Homo sapiens: one gene and its partner. The protein of the gene in region 1 interacts with the protein of each later gene in a biochemical or structural test. Each region holds a gene or a part of one and is shown on either strand. Other genes may lie near its edges. The genes, in order: FOXO4 and NLK.

The links.
Region 2: of the proteins of FOXO4 (region 1) and NLK, one has a biochemical effect on the other in vitro, tested with the Homo sapiens proteins (one study listed by BioGRID).

The regions. Positions count from the first base shown.
Region 1 is NC_000023.11:71,087,587-71,100,866, reverse strand, and holds the start of FOXO4 (forkhead box protein O4), read right to left. Parts: upstream 5,017-13,280; 5' UTR 4,339-5,016; coding exon 3,886-4,338; intron 184-3,885; coding exon 1-183. UniProt on the Homo sapiens protein: Transcription factor involved in the regulation of the insulin signaling pathway. Binds to insulin-response elements (IREs) and can activate transcription of IGFBP1.
Region 2 is NC_000017.11:28,161,283-28,173,804, reverse strand, and holds part of NLK (serine/threonine-protein kinase NLK), read right to left. Parts: intron 10,263-12,522; coding exon 10,177-10,262; intron 5,358-10,176; coding exon 5,148-5,357; intron 1,289-5,147; coding exon 1,187-1,288; intron 1-1,186. UniProt on the Homo sapiens protein: Serine/threonine-protein kinase that regulates a number of transcription factors with key roles in cell fate determination. Positive effector of the non-canonical Wnt signaling pathway, acting downstream of WNT5A, MAP3K7/TAK1 and HIPK2.

The DNA of each region.
Region 1 (13,280 bases):
GGGGGCTTTACTGCGGCCCCGGAGCAGCTTGCTGCTGCTATCCATGGAGGCGGCCCGGCGGCGGGGGGCTTTGCCGCTCTTGCCTCCCTCAGGGTTCAGCATCCACCAAGAGCTTTTGCCGGTGGCCTCGTTGTGAACCTTGATGAACTTGCTGTGCAGGGACAGGTTGTGGCGGATCGAGTTCTGGAGGGGCAGAGATGGCAGGAAAGGGGCGTGAGGTACTGTAGGGGAGGTCAGTGGCCAGCGGTCAAGTCTAAGAGGATGCTGGACCCTGATGATCTAGGGTTTAGGATTTGGTGCCACCACCGCAGCAGGGTTCATTTCGGGGCTTCATTTCCCAGGTCATTAAAGTTTAAGAAAAACTTTAAATAATTTACAAAAAAAGAGAAAAAGATAAAAGATAAAAGGGTGCTGGAACACAGCAGGGGTATTCCTGGAGACTCAAAGAAAGTTGAATCCAGGGGGGAAAACTGGTAGAAGTAGGGGTGGGGGTGGGGTGTGAGGGGAGACCACACACATTTCCCGCTCCCAGACAAGCTGCTCAGCCTCTGCTCCAGACTTCTCTGTACAGCGGGTGGGAGATAACGTGTAATAATCCACTGCAGAGAGCACGGGGGATGCCCACCCTGGAAAAGCTCCTGGTACTCTGCTCTTCCCAGGGCTTCGTGTGTGTTTTGCGGGGGGTGGGGGGAGCGGTACCTGGGGCTGGTGGGCACTGGGGAGACGTGCTCCTTGCCCAGCAAGAACTAGGTTCAGGTGGGAAAGAGCATTGCACCCCTTTCCTTGAGTGCAGGTTTGGGTAGAGTTTACGGGACAGTGGTACAGCACCAGCCCAGGATGGACCCGCCCTGCCCAGAGCCAGTTCTCTGAATAGGCTGAAGGGCTGGAATCTCAGCACAGCAGGTGCTCCATTCCCCACAGAGCATTTGGGCCACCCAGCTCTCTATAGAATTTAAAGATTCCTTTTTCCCCCCTCCCTGAATCCCAGCCTTATTTCTTCCAATCCACAACACACATCCTCAACTACATTCAGTTCAGGTTCAGGCTTCCTGCTGTGCCTCAAATGCGTGAGGTGCAATCTTCCCCTCCCCTCTTTTCCGAGGAGGGATCTCCCCTCTCTAAGTTTTACTAGTTCCGTCAAGACCAAGCTTCAGTTCCACCTCTTTTATAAAGCGGCTGCTTGACTTTGGCAGCCAAATTTCTAGTATAGTATTTTTAAAATCTGCGCCACACAATTTCACCCAATTTATATTGTGTGGCTTATGGTTTCATGTAATTCGTCTCATCGAGTGTAAGTGCCAAGTGTAATGTCCTCCAGTCCCACATCCCCCATCAAAGCCCTCCCAGAGCACCAAGCTCACAGCACATATTCTATACCTACTCAAGCTCACAGTACATAATCAATATTTGTACCTGATTGGTGGGTTGCCCCTGGGTTGACAATGGTGAGGCTCCCCTTGAGGCTCTGCCAGCTCTTCAGTGCCTTGGGTATTGGAAGCTGTATGTTTTCCCTTCCTCCCTCACTGGTGACATTCTACTAGGGAAACGATGCTTTCCAGTGGCCCAGGGAGCTGAGATTGGCAGCTTCTTCAGCCCCCAGTGCAGCTTATATTTACTGATTGCCGCGGGGCAGGCTAGTTACACAAGGGGTTTGGCCCTCCCCTGGCCACCCCCCTTCCCGAAACCTGCCTTCTTTTCCCTACCTCCTTCCCAGTGCCTTTCCCCCATTTCTCAGGAATTTGTGCATAAACTCTTCAACCTTGGGGGCATTTGACCTCCCACTTGGAGGTCTTTAGTTTAGAAATTCAGGAGGAGCCCAGAAGTGCTTAGAGCAACTAGGAGGCTGAGTACATGGGACGGTCAGAAACTACTTGTTTCTCTGACTGGTGCTCTTAAGATAAGGAGCACCTTTGCCTGGGGAATGATGCTTCTTGTTCCAGGGTTCTTTAGCCAAAGAACTCCTTGTGTTCCTGGGACCCTGAGGTAATGGCATTTCAACTGTGCTGATGTTCCTTCAAGGAGTGGCACTTGTCCATCCGGCCTCACCTCATAGTAACTAAGGACCACAATGACCATGACCTGGCACTATGATTTCTCCTCTTTTTATCCTCTAATTCTGGATCTACTTGAGAAGATCCATTCCTTTCCCTACTACTTAATAGCCACAAGGCCCGTTTGTCTCCTCTTCTTTAGGCCTTGGAACTAGCAAGTGGTACACAGACTCTTAATTGGAGAGGTCAGTTTCCCAAAAGCCCATAACTCTTACATGTTGGAGGGCAGGGTGGTGGGGGTGACTGCTAATTGCTCCCTAAGCCACCTAATCTAAACTTTCTTGTTCTAAGTGAGTGCCGCCCCCTGGTGGGGTGGGAGTAACCTTGGCATATCATCAGGGAGGCCAGTTCAGGCATGAGACTTCCCCTCAGAGAGGGGTGGGGGGGCCTTGAAGTCCCAGGCTCAGCCTGATTTGACTTTGCCCTCATTCCAATTAGAGCAAGCCAGGCTCTTTTTAGAGAATATGATTTATAGTTAGACCTGAGTTCAAGTCCTCACCCTGCTGTTATTAGGTGAATTTCCTAACCTTTTGGTACCTAGTTTCCTAATGTGTAAAATGTGGAATCTCAGAATTGCTGTAAAGATTAATAAAATAAAAACTTTAAAAACTACTTTGTAAACTCTAAAGCCCCACAGAAGTGTAGATTATAAGGACGGACTATACTCCCACAATATAACTAACAACTTGTTATTTCCTCTACCCTGGAAAATGAACCTAAGGGAAAAGAAAAACAGCTGTGTAGGCTGGGTCCAAGGAGGGGAGCTTTTTATGAGCTGAGACTGTGGCGTGGCAGTCTACCCAGAAATAGTGCCAAGGGTCTCAGTCAGCTGTCCTATCTTCTGTTCTGCCCAGCCCCTAGGGATAGCACAGATCTGATCCCTCAGTCTCCTATACCTAGGGGAAGTTCCTCTGCTCATCCAACCTTCTGTACTTGGTTATATGCTGACCTCACCACCTAGAGAGGTACAAGCCAGCAATAGGGCTTGAGGCTCCCCAATTTTGTGATTACAGCCCCATATTTTCTCAGGACAAGTTTTTCAGAGTATCCTTTGAGATATTCTCTCACAGTTTCTTCACAGAAGGCCAAGAGAACTCCCAACTTTGTGCTCTAAAGTCAGAGCCCTACCTCCTTCTTCATGACTAATATTCCTTAACAGTAAAGGATGACTTCCCCCCAAAACTTGGATAGCCCCTTACAAGGGAGAGTTTCTTGGCAGCACAGGGTAAGCTGAGCCAAGTGGCAGCTCACAGCCCTTTTTCTTCTTAGTGCATGAGATCAGCTACCTTTCCCCATGAATATTATTGTTTTTACCCTTTGCCACTGCACTCCCTCCTCCTGGGTAGAGCAGTGCTAGAACAGTACCACTACACTGAGGTACTGGGAGGCAAGCAGGGAATCCAAGTAATCCCACAGGAATGGGAGAAAAGGTGTTGGGGTGGGAGGTGGGGGAGGAGGGAAGGGTAGGTTCATGTGGGGAATCCACACAGTTCCTGCTGTACATAGGATAAAGACTTCTCTGTGGGAATAAGTGTTTGGGGCAGCCCAAGCCAAAGTGCTGCGAATATTGAGCAGTGAGCAGAGAATTCAATTTTCTCCAGGGCAGGGACAGTGTCTTATTCATCTGTGATCCTTCAGCATCAAGCACCGAGTGTGGCATATACTATGTACTAAGTAAATGTTTGTCTAACTGGAGATTGAAGGTGGATCTCTGGGCTTCCCAAAGGGGGTGGGGGTGGGAGGTAGTAAAAGGGGCCCCAGAGTAGAAGTAAGGGAGGCTAGGGGGTCCAGGGGGTAGATGGTGTTGGGAAGAAGGTAAGAGGGTCATAATTACCTTCCATCCTGCTGAGCTGTTGCTGTCACCCTTGTCCTTGAAGTAGGGTACAGTACGGACCATCCACTCGTAGATCTGGGCAAGTGTCAGTCGCTTCTCCGGGGCGCTTTCAATGGCCTGGCTGATGAGTTCTGCATATGACTGATTTCCCCAGGCATTCCGGCGGGAGCCTCCCTTCCGAGGACCTGTTACAGCCCCCAGGATTCCGGGCTGGGGGCCCCCGGCCGGCTCTGGGAGCCGAGAGGGCAACAGGATCGGCTCTGAGCGCCCCTCCGTGTGTACCTTTTCCCCCAGATCTGGCTCCACCTCGGGCGGCTCGGACGGCTGGTTAGCGATCTCTGGTCGGGGAAGGGGCCAGGTGCAGGAGCGGGGACGGCTCTGGGGTTCGAAGTCGGGATCTAGGTCTATGATCGCGGCAGCCTCTGTGGCTGAATTCTCATTCCCCGGATCCATACGTGGAGTTGGACCTCCCCGGCTCAGCGTTCAGTGAAGCCTGCCACAGTCCCTCACGATGCCTCCCCTCAGGGGGGAAGCATCGAGGGCCAGGAGGCACATTCCTGCCAGTCTTCAGAAAGTCGCGAACTTCCCCCTAGTCCCAGGACGCTAGTCCCTAAGCTGTCCCTTCACACAGTTCTCCGATCCCCTTCCCGACTACAGCCTGTAGCCTCAAAGCTCTTTCTGAGATGCCACCTGTAACCTCTGCCGAGCGAAGACACTTTTTCTGCAACCTCTCACTCAGCTTCCTGCTCTTTTAAACCTGAGGCACTGTATCCCCTCATATATTGCGCTCCCATCACCGAACGTCTCCTTAGCCGCAGTTCCCTCCCCCTTTTAAGTTGCTGCCCCCCGGACACTCCTCCCAAATTTCCTCCACCCGGATTGCTGCCCTCCCCCACGCCCCGCTCCCCCGCGTCACTTGCCCCTCCCCTGACTCCCCCTTCCCCCGCCTCTTCCCTTCTCGCCACTCTTACTAGGGTCCGGGTCCCCGCGGCTGCGGCCTCCCTTATTCCCGCACCGATTCCCCTATCAACCCCCCCCACCCCCCGCCCCCCGGGTTTCCCTTTTGTTTTGCTCCAAGCAGCAGCCCCCTCCTGACGTCTCTGTTTACCACTCGCCGGGGCAGCCATCTGCGCACGCGCCTCGAAAGCCAGTCGGGAAACCGAGTTCTGCAGTCGTGCCACCCTGGTCACTCTTGAGGACTACATCTCCCGTCCTGCTTCGCGGCCAGGAGCCCGATACGGCGGCAGGAGAGCGGCGTGGCAGGATATAACGAGGTGGAACTTTAATTATTAGAAGTCGTCGCGGACTCTTTCTTTTCTTAAGAATCGTTTTTCGCCCTTTCCCCCTTTCCATTGTCTCCCTTGTGATTCAGAGTCGTGTAGGTGACCAGATTGAGAGGTGCTAGCCCTTTCCCTCCTTCATTTAGGAGACGGCAAAAGGGAAAAAATTATTCTCTTAAAGATGCAGGAGACCAAGAAGCAAGAAGCAAGGAACTGACTAGAAAATAGGATGTATGCACGTTGGAGAGTTGGGTGGGGGGCTTGTGTAACATAAACAAATGGTTAGCCCACGGTGGTGTTCCTCCTCACCCCCTTCCTCCTCCCTCCACCCGCCTTCATCCCCCCATATGCAGTTCCCACTGACAGTGAGGTCTCACTTACCAATCAGTTTCCTCCACTGGCTCTTCTGGCTTTCCCTTCAACACCGATATTCTCCAGGTTCACATCTCCAACGGCTTCACTTCTCATTCAACAGGTCCAAACTCATTATCTGTTCCTGCACCCGCACCCCTATCCTCTGGCTACCCTTATCTCTGAATTTGACTTATGGTAGTCCTGATCTACCCAGTCTCCCAAGCTCCAAGCAGCAGCTTAGAGGTAATTACCCATTACTTCTTCATCTCCGTAACTTTCTACATCCAAATCCCAGTTCAAGACCTATTTATAACTGCATTTAAATTGTAGGATCAGCCGGGTGCAGTGGCTGACGCCTGTAATATCAGCACTTTGGGAGGTCGAGGCAGGCGGATCACTTGAGGTCAGGAGTTTGAGACCAGCCTGGCCAACATGGTGAAACCCATCTCTGCTAAAAATAGAAAAATTAGCCTGGTGTGGGGCACGCACCTGTAGTCCCAGCTACTTGGGAGGCTGAGGTGGGAGAGTCGCTTGAACCCAAGAGGTGGAGGTTGCAGTGAGCCAAGATCATGCCACTGTGCTCCAGCCTGGGTGACAGAATAACACCCTGTCAAAAAAAAAAAAAGGTGCAGTATCATCTTAATTGGATCTCCTTCCATCAGTCTTTACCTCACTACAGTTTATATTCAGAGCTGCCAGCAAGGTTACCGTTCTAAGAAACATGTCTGGTAATTATGGCTAAAATTTATGGAGCCCTTATTATGTGCCAGTCTCTGTGCAAATTGCTTTACGAACATTAGTTCATTTACTCCTCAATCATTTACTCCTCAATTCAACCCCATGAGGTAGGTACCACTATTATCCGCATTTTATAGATGAAGACACTAACAATGCTCAGAGATTGACTTGCCCAACGAGGCAGAACTGGGATTATATAACTTACATGCGATCGTATAATTTCTTTCTTTCTTTCCTTCCTTCTTTCTTTCTTTCCTTCCTTCCTTCCTTCTTTCTTTCTCCTTCCTTCTTTCTTTCTTTCTTTCTTTCTTTCTTTCTTTCTTTCTTTTTCTTTCTTTCTTTCTTTCTTTCTTTCTCCTTCCTTCCTTCCTTCCTTCCTTCCTTCCTTCCTTCCTTCCTTCCTTCCTTCTTTCCTTCTTTTTTGAGACAGGGTCTTGCTCTGTCACTCAGACTGGAATGCAGTGGTGTGATCTTGGCTCACTGCAGCCTTGACCTGCTGCACTCAAGCAATCCTCCCATCTCAGCCTCGGGAGTAGCTGGGACTACAGGCATGTGCCACCACGCCCAGCTAATTTTTGTATTTTCTGTAGAGACGGGGTTTCACCGTGTTGCTCAGGCTGGTCTGGAACTCCTGACTTCAAGTGATCCACCTGCCTTGGCCTCTGAAAGTGCTGGGATTACAGGCATGAGCCACCGCACCTGGCTATAAATTTTGTTTTTTTGATCATGTAATTTCCCTGGTTAAATCTTCCTCTGATTTTCCCCATTGCCTGTGTGATAAAGTTCAAATTCCCTCGCAAGGCATGCCAGGCTCCTCAGATTCAGGCCACTTCACACCTTTCCTGCACACTAAGTTACAAGCAGAGTTTCACACTATTTCCTGGAAATACCATGCCCTTTTATACCTTTCTCTCTGCATCCTGGGATATCATCCCTCTTGTCATTCCTCTCCACGTCTCTTATTTTGGAAAACTCCTATTCAGCCTTCCCTGTCTCCCTTAGGTGTGATTAGTTCTCCTTTTTTTTCTGCATTCCTAAGCACTTTGTGCAGTCTTATGTTATATAGCACAAACTATATTGTATTGTAATTATTTGTTTACTTATCTGTCTCTCCCAGTAAACTGTGAGCTCTTATTTATTTTTTTTTTAGACAGGGTCTCGCTCTGTCACCCAGGCTGGAGTGCAATGGCACAATCTCGGCTCACTGCAACCTCCACCTCCCAGGTTCAGACGATTCTCCTGCCTCAGCCTCCCGAGTAGCTGGGATTACAGGTGCCTGCCACCATTCCCAGCTAATATTTGTATTTTTAGTAGAGATGGGTTTTCACCATGTTGGTCAGGCTGGTCTTGAACTCCTGGCCTCTGGTGATCCACCCGCCTTGGCCTCCCAAAGTGTTGGGATTACAGGTGTGAGCCACAGTGCTCGGCAAATATCATTTATTAAATGAAGTATCACAAATAGCATTTGGACATTTAACAACTTTTAAATAAACATGTCCTATGCATTTTTTGCCTGGCCCTGTTCCAACTGTTAGACAGCAACCTCTGAGGGGCAGGGACTGTAATTTGGCTTGTCTGCCACTTGCAGTGTTTCTATTGTGTTCTGTGATGATGCGGCCTTCCTCCTGTGCAGAAGGATATCCATGCAACCCAGGATTTTTCAGCGGTGGCAGCACATTGGGCCTCCAAAGTGATATTAGCCTGATCATGGTAAAATAGCCATATTGGTTCTCCATATTCCTGCCTTCTTCTGCTCCAACATGCATTTGTCCTCCACCTGTTACCTAGGTGTATACAAAAGGCCATATATTCCCATCTGAGGTCCAGACTAGAGAGATGAGACATAGTTGCTCACGATGCCTGCAAACATTCCCTGCACATGCCCCTTTTTCCTTCACCCCAGCTAAGGGTGCCTGATAAGTGCTGCATGAGTGGTGAATTTGGTAGAGGAGAGAGCCTTGTGGCACTAGGTCACAAGGAGATCTCTTCTAACTGAAACAGCTATGATGGCAGATCATGCAGAGTTACTGAGACAGGGAAATGGCAGGGTGGGGCAGGCACCTGTCCTGGCCTGAGTTAAATCTTGCATTGTCTCTCTTTGTGCATTTGTTTGAAAAGGTCCACCTCTCCACCAACTCATGTCCATCACCTCCTTAAATTTACAATTCAAAGCTCAAAACTAACCTGCCCTTGGAAACTTTTCCTGACTAGTCCAACCTGACAGGCCACTTCTCCAATTTGCATCTCCTGAACCTCTATGAACTCAGTTTGTATTTTTATTTTTTATTTATTTTTTTTTTGAGACAGAGTCTTGCTTTGTCGCCCAGGCTGGAGTGCAGTGGTGCGATATCGGCTCACTGCACCTTCCACTTCTTGGGTTCAAGCAATTCTCCTGCTTCAGCCTCCCTGGTAGCTGGGATTACAGGCGAGCGCCACCACACCTGGCTGATTTTTGTATTTTTAGTAGAGACGGAGTTTCACCATGTTGGCCAGGCTGGTCTTGAACTCCTGACCTCAGTGATCCACCCGCCTCGGCCTCCCAAAGTGCTGGGATTACAGGCGTGAGCCACTGCGCCCGGCTTGTATTCTTTAACTTTGTGCTTCTGCTTACATGGCTTTTCATTTCATGAGGGCATATTGTCTCCCCAACTAGATTATAAACTCTACTATCAATCAACGGATGTTTGTGGAGCCTTTACTGTTGAGAGTACACCTTGAAATCCTGGACAGATAAAAATGACCACACGTCATAGGACCAGATAATTTAGGAGGACGAGCTAAAGGATTGGTGGGATGGTAAAAACACCATCATGACTTTAAAGCATGCAGATAGAGAGGTCAGGGTTGTTCAGCTGTGAAAATGTTGCAAAATAACATTAGTCAAGAGACAGAATTAGCAAGATGGTCTTGGAAAATAAAAAGACATTGGGCAGGAAACAAGATTAATAGGAGGCTCCCAGAAACCACCGTAGCTGTAAGCTACAAACAGATAATGGCAGGATTTAGAAGACACAGGCTTTTCTCCCAGTTTGAAACCCCAGAGTTTATTTTCTCAAATGTCCCCCCATTCACAATTTGTTTTTTTTCCTCTTCAAGGTCATAGGGGTTTGGCTCTCTTGACTTTCACTGCCACCGCCCACTCTTCTACTTGGGTGCCACGCCCCTACCACAGGTCTTTTGCCAAACTGGCTCTATGAATTTGAATTGAGTTTGACATTTCCCCACTTCTTACTCTACCCAGCTCTGAAGAAACACACAATTCACATGTAGCGTTTTTATAGGATTTTTGCTAATAAACACATGGAAAGATGAACACAAATAACAATGAAAAAAATTCAAGGACGCTCAGAAGGTACCACCTCTATTCGTCCCTGATCTTCACAAACGTATATAGAACGTCCATATATTTGCTTTTTCTCTTCCCTAAGTCTTTTCTTATGTGTTTCTGTGAAAGATTTCTAGTCCTTGTCTTTTTTTTTTTTTTTTTTTTTTTTTTTAGACAGGGTCTCACTCTATTGCCAGGCTGGAGTGCAGTGGCGCGATCTTGGCTCACTGCAACCTCCACCTCCCAGGTTCAATCGATCCTCCCATCTCAGCCTCCCAACTGGCTGGGAACACAGGTGTGCACCACGACGCCTGGCTAATTTTTTGTATTTTTTGGTAGAGAAAGGGTTTTGTCATTTTGCCCAGGCTGGTCTGGAACTACTGAGCTCCACCCACCTTGGCCTCCAAAAGTGCTGGGATTACAGGTGTGAGCCACCATGCCCAACCTGGTCCTTGTTTTAGAAGCCACCCTCCCAACTCTGTCTGTTATTGTTTTAAAAAATCTTTTCACAACCTAGGCAACATAGTGAGACCCCATCACTACAAAAAATAAAAAATTAGCTGGGCATGGTGGCTCATGCCTGTAATCCCAGCTACTCGGGAGGCTGACATGGGAGAATTGCTTGAGCCTGGGAGATCGATGCTACAGTGAGCCATCATGGTGCCACTGCACTCCAGCCTGGGATGAGACCCTGTCTTAAATAAATAAATAAATATCTTTTCAGTTAATGACTTTTTTTTTCTGAGACAGAGTCTGTTGTCCAGGCTGGAGTGCACTGGTGCGATCTTGGCTCACTGCAACCTCTGCCTCCCGGGTTCAAGTGATTCTCCTGCCTCAGCCTCCTGAGTAGCTGGGACTGCAGATGTGTGCCACCATTCCTGGCTAATTTTTGTATATTTTATAGAGATGGGGTTTCACCATTTTGCCCATGCTAGTCTCAAACTCCTGAGCTCAAGTGATCTGTCCGTCTCAGCCTCCCAGTTCTGGGATTACAGGTGTGAACCACCGTACCTGGCCAATGAACATTTCTTAAGGGTCTACTATTTTCCAGACATCAGGGTTGGTACTTGCTCGTAAAGTGCACCCTAGAGTGAAGTACTCAGATTTTAGCCCCAAATAGCTTTTTTTTTTTTTTTTTTTTTTTTTTTTTTTGAGGTGGAGTCTTCCTCTGTCGCTCAGGCTGGAGTACAATGGTGTGATCTTGGCTCGCTGCAACCTCCACCTCCCAGGTTCAAGCAATTCTGCTGCCTCAGCCTTCTGAGTAGCTGGGATTACAGGCACCCGCTGCCACGCCCAGCTAATTTTTGTATTTTTTTTTTTTTGAGGCGGAGTCTCTCTCTGTCACCAAGCTGGAGTGCAGTGGCGCGATCTCGGCTCACTGCAAACTCTGTGTATTTTTAGTAGAGATGGGGTTTCACCATGTTGGCCAGGCTGGTCTCGAACCCCTGACCTCAAGTGATCCACTAGCCTTGGCCCCTCCCAAAGTGCTGGGATTATGGGCATGAGCCACCACCGTGCCCAGCCCCACATAGACTTGAGTTGGCACCACTTTTTTGGACCATAGACATAACTCTGGTGCAGTGAAAAGAACACTAGATTGAGTCAGGAGATCTGAGTCCTTGTCATAGTTTTGTCACTAACTAGTTGAAAAATTGATACTAATTACACTAATATTGATAAGTAACATTTATTGGGTTTTTATTATGTGTTAGGTACCATGCTAAGTGCTTTATGTGGATTATCTCATTTAGTCTCACAACAAATGTATAAACTCAATGGTAGTACTGTTTTCATTTCACAGAGGAAAATGAGACTTAGGATAAGGAGACATGCTTAAGGTCCAGAATTACTAAGTGGTAGAGTAGAGGCACAAATGCAGGCAGTCTGACTCCAGAGCCTAAACAAGTCAGTTTCACTCTTCTGGCTTTGGTTTACTCATTTGTAAAATGAGAGTGATATATGAGAAGATCTCTAAAGTCTCTTCTAGCTCTAAAATCCTATTTTCTGTGATCTCCAATCTGGGTTCGAGACCCCAGGTTGCCCTTTATATTTTAGGTCGCCCTGAGCTTACACTTCACACCCACATGAATTTGGTCCTAGCCTCCTGCATAAATAACATCCACAATGCTTCATTCCTCAGGTTTTTTATTTGTTTGTTTGTTTTTGTTTTTGAGACGGAGTCTCGCTCTGTTGCCCAGGCTGAAATTCAGTGGTGGGATCTCAGCTCACTGCAACCTCCGCCTCCCGGGTTCAAGCAATTCTCCTGCCTCAGCCTCCTGAGTAGCTGGGATTACAGGCACGTGCCAACACGCCCGACTAATTTTTGTATTTTTAGTAGAGACGGGGTTTCATCATGTTGACCAGGCTGGTCTTGAACTCCTGACCTCGTGATCTGCCCGCCTTGGCCTCCCAAAGTGCTGGGCTTATAGGCTTCAGCCACCGTGTCCAGTCAATCTCTCAGGTTTCGAGGAACCTTAGAGCTTCCTCTTTAACTCTTCCTGTAGAGCTCTATGGTTCCAACCTTTGAAAGTCCTCAGCCTGGGCAACATGGTGAGACCTCCATTTCTACTAAAAAAAAAATCTTTTTAATTAGCTGGGCATGATGGTGAGCACCTGTGGTCCCAGCTACTTCGGAGGCTGAGGTGGCAGAATGGCTTGAGCCCAGGAGGTTGAGGCTGCAGTGAGCCATGTTTGTGCCACTGCACTCCAGCCTGGGCAACAGAGTAAAACCTTGTCTCAAAAAAAAAAAAAAAAAAAAAGCCGGGTACAGTGGCTCATGCCTCATGCCTGTAATCCTAACACTTCGGGAGGCCGAGGTGGGTGGATCACTTGAGGCCAGGAGTTCAAGACCAGCCTGGCCAACATGGTGAAACCCCGTCTCTACTAAAAACAGAAAACATTAGCCAGGCGTGATCGTGCATGCCTGTAGTCCCAGCTATGCGGGTGGCTGAGACACGAGAATTGCTTGAACCTGGGAGGTGGAGGTTGCAGTGAGCCAAGATCACATCACTGCACTTCAGCCTGAAAAAAAATAAAACAGTCCTACTGGCATGATATTTACCAGAGTTATTTACCAAAGATTTTTTTTTCCAGAGATATTTGCCAGAGAGTTTTCAATACACAAAAACATGCATATATATATATATATATCCATATATATATATATATATGTCCATATATATATATGTCTATGTCTCTCTCTCTATATATATATATATTTTTTTTTTGAGACAGGTCTCATTCTGTTACCAGGCTGGAGTGTAGTGGCACGATCTTGGCTCACTGCAACCTGTGCCTCACAGGTTCAAATGATTCTCGTACCTCAGCCTCCTGAATAGCTGGGATTACAGGCTTGCACCACCACACCTGGCTAATTTTTGTATTTTTGGTAGAGATGGGTTTTCGCCATGTTGGCCAGGCTGGTCTCAAACTCCCAACCTGAAGCGATCCACCTGCCTCAGCCTCCCAAAGTGCTGGGATTACAGGCATGAGCCACCACGCCTGGTCAACATGCTTATATTTTAAGTTACCTGGAAAGACCAGGATATGATACTTTATATACTATATGTTCATAATTTTGTTTAGTAAGGTACATTGAGAAAAGATAGGTAGAAATGCCAAAAAGTGTTAACAGTGGTTATCTGTTTTCCTTTCTTATATTTTTCCAATTTACTATGACCATGTGTACCTTTTAAACT
Region 2 (12,522 bases), on another chromosome or scaffold:
ATTAGTAAATTAGTTTTATGTTCCTGATGCTGGCCAATAAATGGAACATAATAGATCTTGTTAGTTCCTTCTATAATATAGAACTTTCCTCTAGGTTAAGACTTACTGTGCTCTTCTCAAGGTGTTAGGGCCTCATATTATTTTACAGTTCTAAACCAAATGCAACAGAAACATGTAACCATCAGAGGGCTATTTAACATACAAGCATACATCTCTATTTACTAGCCTGGGCTGGTTTTAGAAGAGAACACACTTTACCTCATTGCCCTTTATGCCTGTGACAACAAAAGCTCTGGAGTCACACTAGAATTACAAAGAGAGAACCGCAAAGGGAAGGTGAGGTCTTCCCTTTGCCACCTTCCCTTTGCAAATGTCTGGCTGACAGTTTGAGAGGAGGAGTGTCAAATTCACTCTGTCATTTGGTACCATCAATCAGATAATCTAAACGTCCAATTCAAAAGAAACCAAAACTCAGGAAAATTTGTTGCTGGGTCATCCTGTTCAAGTCTTATCTGTTCTGTTTTAATTTGTTGCTCCTAGGAAAAGTATTCCCCTTATTCACTCTTCACATCATTAAGCTGTTCTGTCCAAAGGAGATAAGGAAGTGCTTGTAAAAACTGTTGCTAAATCAACAGGTGGAGATAAAAAACCATTTTGTCTTTCTCAGCAGTGACTTGGCTAGTTGCAAGTAATACTGATGAGTGCAAATCTGGCAATCTATCTTCATACTTCTTTTCTAACAACGTTCACATCTGATTCTGTGTTAGTGGCAAGAGTGCAATAGCAACAGCTTCACAGTCCTGGCTGGAATAAGAAATACGAGGTATTTTGGCTCAGTATTTGGAAAGGACATCTTGATATACATGTAGTAGGTTATGGCATTGAGGTCAAAGCTCCATCTCCAGTAATTTTTCCCATAGACACCAATAAATCAGGAGACACAAAGCCAAGGGTCATCTATTAGCAAAGGAGCTACACAAACACGCACTTTCTCCTACGGCATTAGGAATGAGATTTTATTCAGTTTGACAAATATTGAACATTTTCTTACTTAGGACCTTGATGTTAAAAAAAAAAATCCTACAGATAATACATTTGCTTAAAAATCCTTAATAGATTACTCTATTGGAAGGGAAATCTTGCCCAAACAGATGGTTACCAGAAAAAGATTCCCCCCTCCTCTCACCTGTTTATGAGGACCCCTGAGTATATGTGCCTTAGCGCCTTCACAAGCTGTCCTCATTGCTTCCAGTGATGGTGTGCCCAACAGATCCGTGATCAAATCCAACTACAAGGAAATAAAATACAGATAGATAGTAATCTCATGGAAATAACTTTTCATTACTCTTAAATCATAGCCTTAGAGAAGTGGACCAAATCTGGGGGAAAAAACCTTAAGACAAGCTCTAGATTAACTGACAGGAGCCCCTACTTTCACTTTCTGGCCTATTAAAAAAGATTTCTAGGAATTTATAATAAATAAATTCCTCATGTAAAGGAATTTAAAATAAATAAATTCCTCATGTAAAGGAATTTAAAATAAATAAATTCCTCATGTAAAGGAATTTAAATAAATTCCTCATGTAAAGGAATTTAAATAAATTCCTCATGTAAAGGAATTTAAATAAATTCCTCATGTAAAGGAATTTAAATAAATTCCTCATGTAAAGGAATTTAAATAAATTCCTGTTATTATTCCTATTTATTATTTAAAAGTTCCTATCTATCCTATTCCTATTTAACATATTATTTATTATATATAGGATTATCCTATATATTCCATTCCTATTTATCCTATTTCTATTTATCCTATTCCTATTTATTCTATTATTTAGTTCCTATTTATCCTATTATTTAAAAGTTCCTACTTATTTATTTAAAAGTTCCTATTTATATGATAGAAATATAGAAAATATGTTTTGATAAGCATGACATTCTAAGGCTATAGCAATTTGGGAGTCTGCATGTCTGTCCTGTTTTCTTGATACCATAGCATCTAAGATCTTTGCAAAGTTGAACTCCTCTTCTGTTGATGCCTAATGACTATTCTTTCCAAACAGTTAATGAATGGATTCTGATGCTTCAAATGGATTCAGGCTCACCAAGGTGCTAATCCACAAATCAGACACCTGTGATTTAATAAATACTGAAAATATTCACACCTGAAATGAAAGCTAAGCTCTCCATGCTTGGGCCAGTACACATCCTTTACATTCTAGTCATGCTAGAAATCTCTTACGCTGGCAGAAAACTGTGACACTTAGAAAAATATGACACCACATAAGACCACATTTAGCTAGCTGGACACAATAAAAGAGACCAATAAAACAGTCTTCTTGCAAACAAGTCTTTGGGTAGCAAACTATCTTACCAATTTTCTGTAGTGTCACAATTGTTCTAACTTCATAACCTAATTAGCAATAACATTTCATTTGGATCCTTCCAGGATGGGAAATTCTTACCTAGAGAACACTTCTTTTCCTGGTTCTGGGCTTGCCGAATATAAAGCACTATTTTCTGCACTTATCTAAACCATGGGGTAGCCATCAGCATCAACACCCTACAGGTTAATGGAGATACTTGAGAAGCTTGCTTTCCACAGAAATAAAGATCTCTATACAAAGCTTTTTGGGAAAAGTGTGTAGGTGATACTTTTGGATCTCTAACAACCACACTAAAGGCAGAAGGAAATGACTAGCTTATAAAAACAAACTGAAACATTCAGAAAGTTGTCTAAAATGGGTCAGATCCATACATGAGAAACACTTTTATGATGTCTGCTAGTACCAGGGTAATTAAATCTCAAAGATACAGAGAAAATACAACAGGAAATAATGACTTCCATTAGAAGTTAGAGCCTTTTCCTATTTTAGATCTTCATTTCTCACCCCAACACACACCAACAATTAGACAGACATGAATTCTCCTGCAGTGGCTATGTCAGACTGCCAAACTGAAGATCTATGTATTTCTCTAGCAAAGGGATATCTGAACTCCAGTCCAGTTGCTTCACACTTTCCCTCACATATTTTTTGCAGCAGCAATTCAAGATTCTTGTTCCATATATAGGATTTGAATACTTCCTTATTATTTTTTACTTAAGCTTTTCTGTATGCAAGGTAGTAGTCACATCCATTTTATGACAGCTTATGTCCAGATATGATAGTCTTACAGGTTAAGTCTGTTAAACTTTACTTTCTGAAGAAATTGAAAAGTGAATATTGTCAAAAGTACCCAACATTAGATTAAGTATTATATGTACATAATTTTTTTAACACCAGAATCAATTTTTAAGATGTAAACTTTAAAAAAGACAGTTAAAACGTATAGCATAGAAAAATTTAAATGTTGATAAAAGCAGATATAGTTTCTAACATATTAGGTAAAAATTCTTTGTAGAAAAAGCATAAAAGAAATAATTCTGTCTGGTCAAGTGCATTAATTATTTACAAAGACACAGTAGTCAGTGTGATCTTTTAAAATGTCATCAATCAAATCTTAGTATTCCTTTGGTCAAAACCTTCATTTAAGTTTTCTATCACACTTAGAATAAAATCTTAAGGCTTTATCATGTCACCATGGCCAGGTTCTTTCTCACTTTCTGACCTCATTTCCTACAGCGTCTTCCATCACATACCTTCCCTCCAACATGCCATGCTTGTTCCTGCCTCAGGGGCTTTGTTATGGTGGTTGTCCCTCTTCTTGGAACATTTCTCCAGCATCTTACTGCCTTATTTTATGTGGGTGAAATGTTATATCCTCAGAGAATCCTTTAGTGCCTGCTCTGCTCTGCCACCATTGTCTGTCCCTAACCTGGCTACATTTTTCTTTATGGAACTTCCATTACTTGGAATCATATTTATTTGCATATTTATTTTTGTCTCATGTAAAAGTTTCACAAAGGTTAAGAACAATGCTGTCTTATTTACTGCTGTATCCCTAGAGTCCTGGCACACTACCACCATCGTAATTGCAAACATTTACAGAGTGCTTACTATGTGCCAGGCCCCGTTTTCAGCTTTCCTACTTCATTGTACAACAATCCTCAGAACAGTTTTAGGGGCCAAAAAAAAAAAAAAAAAAGAAGAAGAAGCAGCAAAAAAAAAGGAACACAGAGGTTAAGTAACTTACCCAAGATTTAACATAAGTGGTGCAGCTAGGATTTGAACCCACCAATCTGATTTCACAGCCTGAGCTCATAGTTACTACATTATTTTCATGCAAGCAAATTAATACAAAATACCCAGTAATTATGTCAATATGTGTATTAGTGAATAATTAGCTTTAAAGACAATTCAAGTAACATGAATGGCTTCTAAAGGATTCTCTGAGGAAATTATATTTTAATCATCTCCTGATGTTCTCTGCCATATTTAGATATTTTAGTCCAATAATAAAGGTTAGAAATTTTCCTAAATGTTCAGATTTCAAGAAATCAACACACTAAAAATTTATATTCTAAGCACAAAGTGTAAGTACATTAAGTCACCAATACATTTTCAAGTCAGAGCCATTCACTTAGAAGGAAGAGAGGCCTTCTAACAACTGAAGATTATACCTGTGCAAATTGTCATAGCAGAGCTCACAGCTATGCATCAGTGCATATAATAAAGTCAACTGGCCGGGTGCAGTGGCTCATGCCTGTAATCCCAGCACTTTGGGAGGCTGAGGCAGGTGGATCACCTGAGGTCAGGAGTTCGAGACCAGCCTGGCCAATACAGCAAAACCCTGTCTCTACTAAAAATACAAAAACTAGCCAGGTGTGGTGGAGCGTGCCTGTAATCCCAGCTACTTGGGAGGCTGAGGCAGGAGAATCGCTTGAACCTGGCAGGTGGAGGTTGCAGTGAGCCAAAATGGCACCATTGCACTCCAGCCTGGGCAACAAGAGCAAAACTCCGTCTCAAAAAATAATAATAATAATAAATAAATACATAAATAAACTCAATACTCCCTCTAAAGGCTCATAAGTTACAAAATGAATCTCTTTGTAATCTTCAACTTTATAACTTTCTGAATTTTAAGTGAACCTGAATTTCCTAAAAGCAAATTAGACAGTATAATGAATAAGCCCAAGACACATGTGCAAGATGGATTTTCCTTCAAATCTGCAATAGAATTGCAACTAAAGCCTTAAATTGAAATCATACCTGCTGAATGGGACTCTGTGCCTGAAACAATATTCTTCGTCCTAGTAGTTCTGCAAAGATACATCCCACAGACCAGATGTCAATAGCATTGCTGTAATGACGGCTGCCCATCAGGATTTCTGGAGCCCGATAATACTGAGTAACAACTTCCTGAGTCATATGACGGGATTCATCTAATTCTTCCACTCTGGCCAATCCAAAATCACAAATCTAGACAGAAAAGGCAATCAAAACATTATCAAGCAAATACAAATGAAAGAGTAAAACAAAACATCAAAATTTTGATAGGGCACTGAACTTTGAAACTTTTTTTTTTTTTTTTGAGATGGAGTCTCACTCTGTCACCCAGGCTGGAGTGCAGTGGCACAATCTCAGCTCACTGCAACCTCTGCTTCCTGGGTTCAAGGGATTCTTCTGCCTCAGCCTCCCGAATAGCTGGGACTACAGGTGCCTACCACCACGCCTGGCTAATTTTTTTTTTTTTTTGTATTATTTAGTAGAGAAGGGGTTTCACCATATTGGCCAGGCTGGTCTCAAACTCCTGACCTCAGGTGATCCATCTGCCTTGGCCTCCCAAAGTGCTGGGATTACAGGTGTGAGCCACTGCGCCCGGCCACTCTGGAACATTTTTAATGATATAGGTATAGTATATTTATGTCAATATACAATCTGGTTTTATTTGGTTAAGAGAGGAAAAAAGTCTCAAACTTACATCATTTTCTTAAAAATATTCTTCTCATCTTTATCAATAAAAACATGTCTGTTTTCAGTTGATAATCGAAGCAAAAAAAACTAGGTGAACGTAAACGACTTTATTTATTTTTTTAGACAGGGTCTCACTCTGTCTCCCTGGCTGGAGTGCAGTGGCGTGATCGATCTGAGGCTCCTCCCACCTCAGTCTCCTGAGTAGCTGGGACTACAGGCATGTGCTACCACACCTGGCTAATTTTTGTGGGTTTTTTTTTTTTTTTGTAGGGATGAGGTTTTGCCATGTTGCCCAGGCTGGTCTTGAACTCCTGGGTTCAAGCAATCTGCTTGCCTTGGCCTCCCAAAGTGCTGGGATAACAGGCGTGAGCTACTGCACCTGGCCAAATGCATACTTGTAGGTTTGATTTAGAGACCAACTGTTGGCCAGGCACAGTGGCTCATGCCCGTAATCCCAGGGATTGAGAGGACTGCTTGAGAGATCAGGAGTTTAAGACCAGGCTGGACAACATAACAAGATCTCAACTCTACAAACAATTAAAAAAAAAAAAAGCTGGGCGTGGTGGTGTGCACCTGTAGTCCCGGCTACTCTGGAGGCTGAGGTGGGAGGACTGCTTGAGCCCAGGAGTTTGAGGCTACAGTGAGCTATTACTGTGCCACTGCACTCCAGCCTGGGAGACAGAGTGAGATTGAGACCCTATCTTTAAAAAAAATTTAAAAACCCCCACAAAACCAATTACTTTCAAGACTAGTTTAGAGAGGAAGATATCATAAGATAAAGGGGTGTATCTTGAAGGTCTCCTTAGCTGAGACTGTGTCTGTCGTCTTTATGAAATATATGTGAATTTCTTTAAAGCAATGGGTTTCAAACTGACTCCAGTTGAATCTACTTCTGACTTTAGGCATTCCATGAATATTATATCCAAACTTCACATGTACCTATCTATTTAAAATACAAATTCATACTCAAATGTATAAATATGTTAAAATGCAGTATATGGTAGAATACTAATGCTATGGGGTTCATTCATTTCTTCATGCCATAAATATTTAAGTTAGTACTTGTTATATTACAGACTGTATGTTAGAATCTGGAGATACAGCAATAAATAATAAAGACAGGTTAACTTCTATACAAACTTAGAAATAAATCTTTTCTTGCTATTTCTGCTCAACTGAAAAGTATGCTGAGGGTTACAAGGTGAGCTATTAATAAACAGCAGCCGTGCCACCACCAGCAACTACTACTTATCTTTAGGAATTAAAATTTTCTTGATATTGGGCAATCAAAACACAACTAGGAGCACTGAGGATGAGATCAGATAGTAATGGCCATCTAAGCTCCAGTGTTCTCACTGATTAACTTTACAAGTCACAATATTGCAAGTGATAAAATATGATTTTAAATCTGTTTTCTAAATTGAAGTCCCCAAATAAGATTTTATTTGAAAAAGAGTTCCGGCAGCTTAAAAAGAAAATCTGAAAACCCCGTTCTAAAGAAAACAAAATTTATCCCCCAATTTTTGGCAATCCCCTCTTTCTGATTTGAATCTACTATGTCTGGTTACATCAAATGAATTCAGATGTGTATGTGGGAATGAATCAGTATGAAGCCACCATCTTTACAACTTAAGAAAGCAGGAAAATTTTCCATACTATACAGATAAACCATATAACATAACAACAAAAGCCCGAGTTCATCAAATATGTTCAAATAACATATATATATATATATTTTTTGAGACAGTCTCACTCTGTCACCCAGACTGAAGTGCACTGACATGATGTCGGCTCACTGCAACGTCTGCCTCTCAGGTTCAAGTGATTCTCGTGTCTCTGCCTCCTGAGCAGCTGGGACTAGTGGCATGCGCCACCACGCCTGGCTAATTTTTGTATTTTTAGTAGAGACAGGGTTTTGCCATGTTGGCCAGGCTGGTCTCAAGTTCCTGGCCTCAAGTGATCTGCCCACCTCAGCCTCCCAGTGCTGGGATTACAGGCGTGAGCCACTGCGCCCGGCCAAAATAACATATAATATTTTAAAAACTCTATTACTTGGCCATGACTCTTGAGGATATTTTTAAAAACCAAACCAACAAAAGGAAAGAACATAATTTTTTTCTCATATTTATATGAGAAAAACCAACCAACCACCCATCCAACAAAAAAAGGCCTTCTGTTATAAAGCAAATCCCTTATTAAAAACATCAGTATGATTTCGTCATTTTTAGCAACTTATTTGGAAGACAACCTGAGTCCAAAATAGGAAGCTTACATGATCAGATAACTAAAAAAATTCCAGCAAAATTATCCATCTTGTGCTTAATAGGAAACAAAATACATTCACGATATGGAAGGATACTGATTTTTAAAAAATGTTTTGTTATAATGATCTTCAATGAATTTGTATGTTTGAGAAGAAAGAACTAGTGTCTATAGCCTAGACTCTATTCTGGCTTTTTAAAAGTAGGCCCATAAGATGAGTCAAAGGAGTGGAGCAAAATTTGTTTGTTCTGATTTGTGTGTTGTGTATTCACAAATGGCATTTTCCTTTAGTTGCCCATTCATACAGTCCAAGGTTATAAAACCATAACGGACAATTTGGAAAATGAACTTCAAGCAGTTAATGGCATCAAACATGACAGGTCCTGCACAAAATCCTGTGTGAAGTCTTCCAATCAAAAACCAAAATAAGAAGAAATTGGCTTAAACTGTCGTAAGATTGATTAGGTATGAATAGGACAAAAAAATTTCTAACTATAAGGTTTAAATTTTTTTTTTAATTAAAAAACGATTATGGGGATAGGTTGCAAGTTCTCTTTAAAAAGTGAAAAGGTGGCAGGAAAAACTCAATAACCTATAGAAGGAATACTTTAGTAGATTTTGGTGGCAATTAACTTCTCTGTGGAAACAAAAGACTGAATTACAACATCAGCTATTTTTAGGGAAAATATGAAAAATAGGTTTTCATCTTTCTTGAGTTAAAATAAGGGTGAGGGTTCTTCAAGGCTATAATGAAGGGAGAATTTTCATTCATAAGCAGTATAATCCACCAGCTTTTCAAGAGAACTGACCTACAGTTCAGAGAAATCATTTAAAATAAAAAATGAATTTTATTTATACACTTGGTTTTATTACTTAGTTTAACCGCCAGCAACCTAAGTAATAATGATAGTCTTGATTACTTTTAAAGTGGGTAACATTTTAAAAATTTATTTTTCTTTTCAAATATAGCAGTTAAAGGCCCTTATTTCCAATTTCTATTATGAGGAAAAATATAGTGGACCTCTCTCTATTCAAGAGTTCTGCCAATACACATCTGTATTAGAGGTAGGGAAATACAAATATGTGGACTTTGCTATTTGCAAGCCCCTTTTTAAATGAAAGACAATGGCTGTACTAGGGAAGAGAAGTAAAACTGAAACTGATGACTTGAAATTTTGGAACTACTAAATATAATTCTGTAATCAATTCCTCTTCAGAGGAATAATTAAGAATTGGCTACTATACATTATGGAAATACATTGGATAGATGCATATTACCCTTTTCTGGTTTGGCATTTTCACTTTTTTTTTTTTTTTTTTTGAGACAGGGTCTCACTCTGTCACCTAGGTGGAAGTGCAGTGGTGTGATCACAGCTCACTGCAGCCTTCACGCTCTGGGCTCAGGTGATCCTCCCATCTCAGCCTTCTGAGTAGCTGGAACTACAGGCATGTGCAACCACACCTAGCTAATTTTTGAATTTTTTATTGAGATGGGGTTTTGCTGCATTGCCCAGGCTGGTCTTGAACTCCTGGGCTCAAGCAATCTGCCCGCCTCAGCCTCCCAAAATGCTGGAATTACAGGCATGAGCCACCGTGTCTGGCCAGCACTATCCCTTTTAAATATGTTTCTACTTCTTACTTTGCTACCTTGGTCAAACAGCATATAGATATGTTAGCTGTGTAAAAATGTAAATGGTCTTCCTAAAAGTCACACTTCATTCTCTTATATAAACAGATGCTTGCTGTTCTAATATTTCTTCTGATATGCACTTCTTTTAATAATGGAACAAGCTGTAAAGGAGTCACCTTGTCTATTCTTCTTTCTAGTTACACTACAATTCCAATTTCAGTGTTTCTAAAACATAGGCCAAATATCATGAAAAGAACATGAGGCAGGACTACAAATTATTACCATGGCTATGAGTAGTGATATGGAGAAAACTGGGTTAACTTTTGGTAAAGTAATGGAAATGAACTTCTTTCTTTCACAAAAATATGTTGTTCTTAAACCTGCCCTGACATTCTGATTTTTCCCAGGTATTTAAATAAACTGAAAAGCTACCTTTAGAACACAGTTGCTGTTCACAAGGAGATTCCCTGGCTTAATGTCTCGATGTAAAATGCCAGCTGAATGGAGATATTTCAAACCTGAAATAACAAACAGATTTAATTGCAGATATTTAATTCCTTTTACTCAACCAATAATTTAAAAAAAACCTTGGAAGAAAACAGTAGAGGATTTAAAATTGTTCCCTAAATAACTGCATAATGAACATTATTAAAAGCTAGTCCCACCTCAAAATACCGTAATTTTGCTACAGTAAAATAAAATGTCACCAAAGGTTTGCAAAGTCTAGAGATAATGTCTATAATTTAAACAATTATGTAGGTTTAAATACAGATAAGCTTCTTAGGCACTCGAGTTAAGACCATACTAATAACCTTAGATTGCTAGTCAGTGTGGCTATTGGACTGCTGCTATTGATACTCTTAACCTGCAACTCGGAGCCTGCTCCAACAAAACAGTTTCCATTACTACAGGGAGCCTTTCCCAGGACAGATGTTTCACTGATAGAACAAAATTCAGGAACTTGCCCACACTGTCAGTAGTATTCTTTACCGCTCAGAATCAAGAGGGTAATGAACCACTTTAAAAATATTTGTGAAATCTTAGAAGACCAGTGTCTTCATTCAGTACTGCTAAAGGTCCCAGCCTCAAGGTTGAGTCCTTTTTGTGTGCGTTTTTCTTTTTTTCTTTTCTTTTTTTTTTTTGAGACAGGGTCTCGCTCTGTAACCTAGGCAGGAGTGTGGTGGTATGATCACAGCTCACTGAAGCCTCGACCTTCCTGGCTCAAGCCATGCTCCCATCTCAGCCTCCTGAGAAGTGGGAACTACGGGCATGTACCACCATATCCGGCTAATGGGCTGAGTCTTTTTTGGATAAAATGTAGCAAATCACATTTTTCACAAGTACAAAAAGAGCCAATATCTTCCCCATTTTCCCCTACCATAGAATATGAACAAATCTTAGAGGTGAACGTTTTTGTTTTTTTTGAGACGGAGTCTCACTCTGTTGCCCAGGATGGAGTGCAGTGACGCGATCTTGGCTCCCTGCAGCCTCCACCTCCTGGGTTCACTCGATTCTCCTGCCTCAGCCTCCCAAGTAGCTGAGACTACAGGCGAGTGCCACCATGCCCAGCTAAGTTTTGTATTTTTTTAAAGTAGAGATGGAGTTTTGCCATGTTGGCCAGGCTGGTCTTGAATTCCTGACCTCAGATGATCTGCCCGCCTCAGCATCCCAAAGCGCTGGGATTACAGGCATGAATCACCATGCCTGGCCTGGAGGTGAGTTTTTTAGTTTTAATATTGCTTATGTGGCTGGGCGCAGTGGCTCACGCCTGTAATCCCAGCACTTTGGGAGGCCGAGGCAGGAGGATCACAAGGTCGGGAGATCAAGATCATCCTGGCTAATACGGTGAAACCCTGCCTCTACTAAAAATACAAAAAATTAGCTGGGCGTGGTGGCGGGCACCTGTAGTCCCAGCTACTTGGGAGGCTGAGGCAGGAGAATGGCGTGAACCTGGGAGGCGAATCTTGCAGTGAGCTGAGATCGCACCACTGCACTCTAGCCTAGGCGACAGAGCAAGACTCTGTCTGAAAAAAAAATTGCTTATGTGTTTTCATCCTTTTGGCATTTATTTTTCAATCTCTATAAAGAATCTCTTAATTCTATGAATTCTGGGGCAGGGGGAAAGTATTTTGCTTACTAGGTAAGAAAGCTGTTTCAGGTTTAAGCAATTCTCTACTTGTAATGGCAAAATTCTCATGGACATACTTGATGGCCAGAAGAAGTGTCAATAATGTTGGCCCAAATCCTTTCTCAGTCAAGTCTGTGCTCTTTAATGAGCTGTCTAGAATTTAGCTGGCTCTGTTTATTGGTCTTCCCAATCTACTTTGGTTTTAAGGGTCATTTTGTTTCTCTGGAGTTGGCTTCAGGTATGCCAGCCAATACTCAGACAGGCCCACCTACTGTTGGCTTGCAGGATGGACGTCATCCATAGGGGATATAGTCACTTTTCACTTTAGTCGTCTGATGCCACATATTCCTATTCCGTTGAAAACTAAAGGCTGTTTTGTGAACTTGTGACAAACCATCCTGCTTATTCACCTAGATTAGCCCACTCAACTGCCTAATGAATTTGACAGGGCTTTCTCTTTCATCACTGAAAACAAGAACTATTTGGCAACCCTAAAAAGCTTCCTCTTTAACATTAAATATAGAAATTATAAAATATGCTTTGGTCAAAAGAAAAAAGTCTTTAGAGAAGAAGAAAACCTTGGAAGATCGGATTAAAGTCTAAATGAGAAGCAAAACATTTCATTTACAGTGTGACAGCACCTTTTTCTT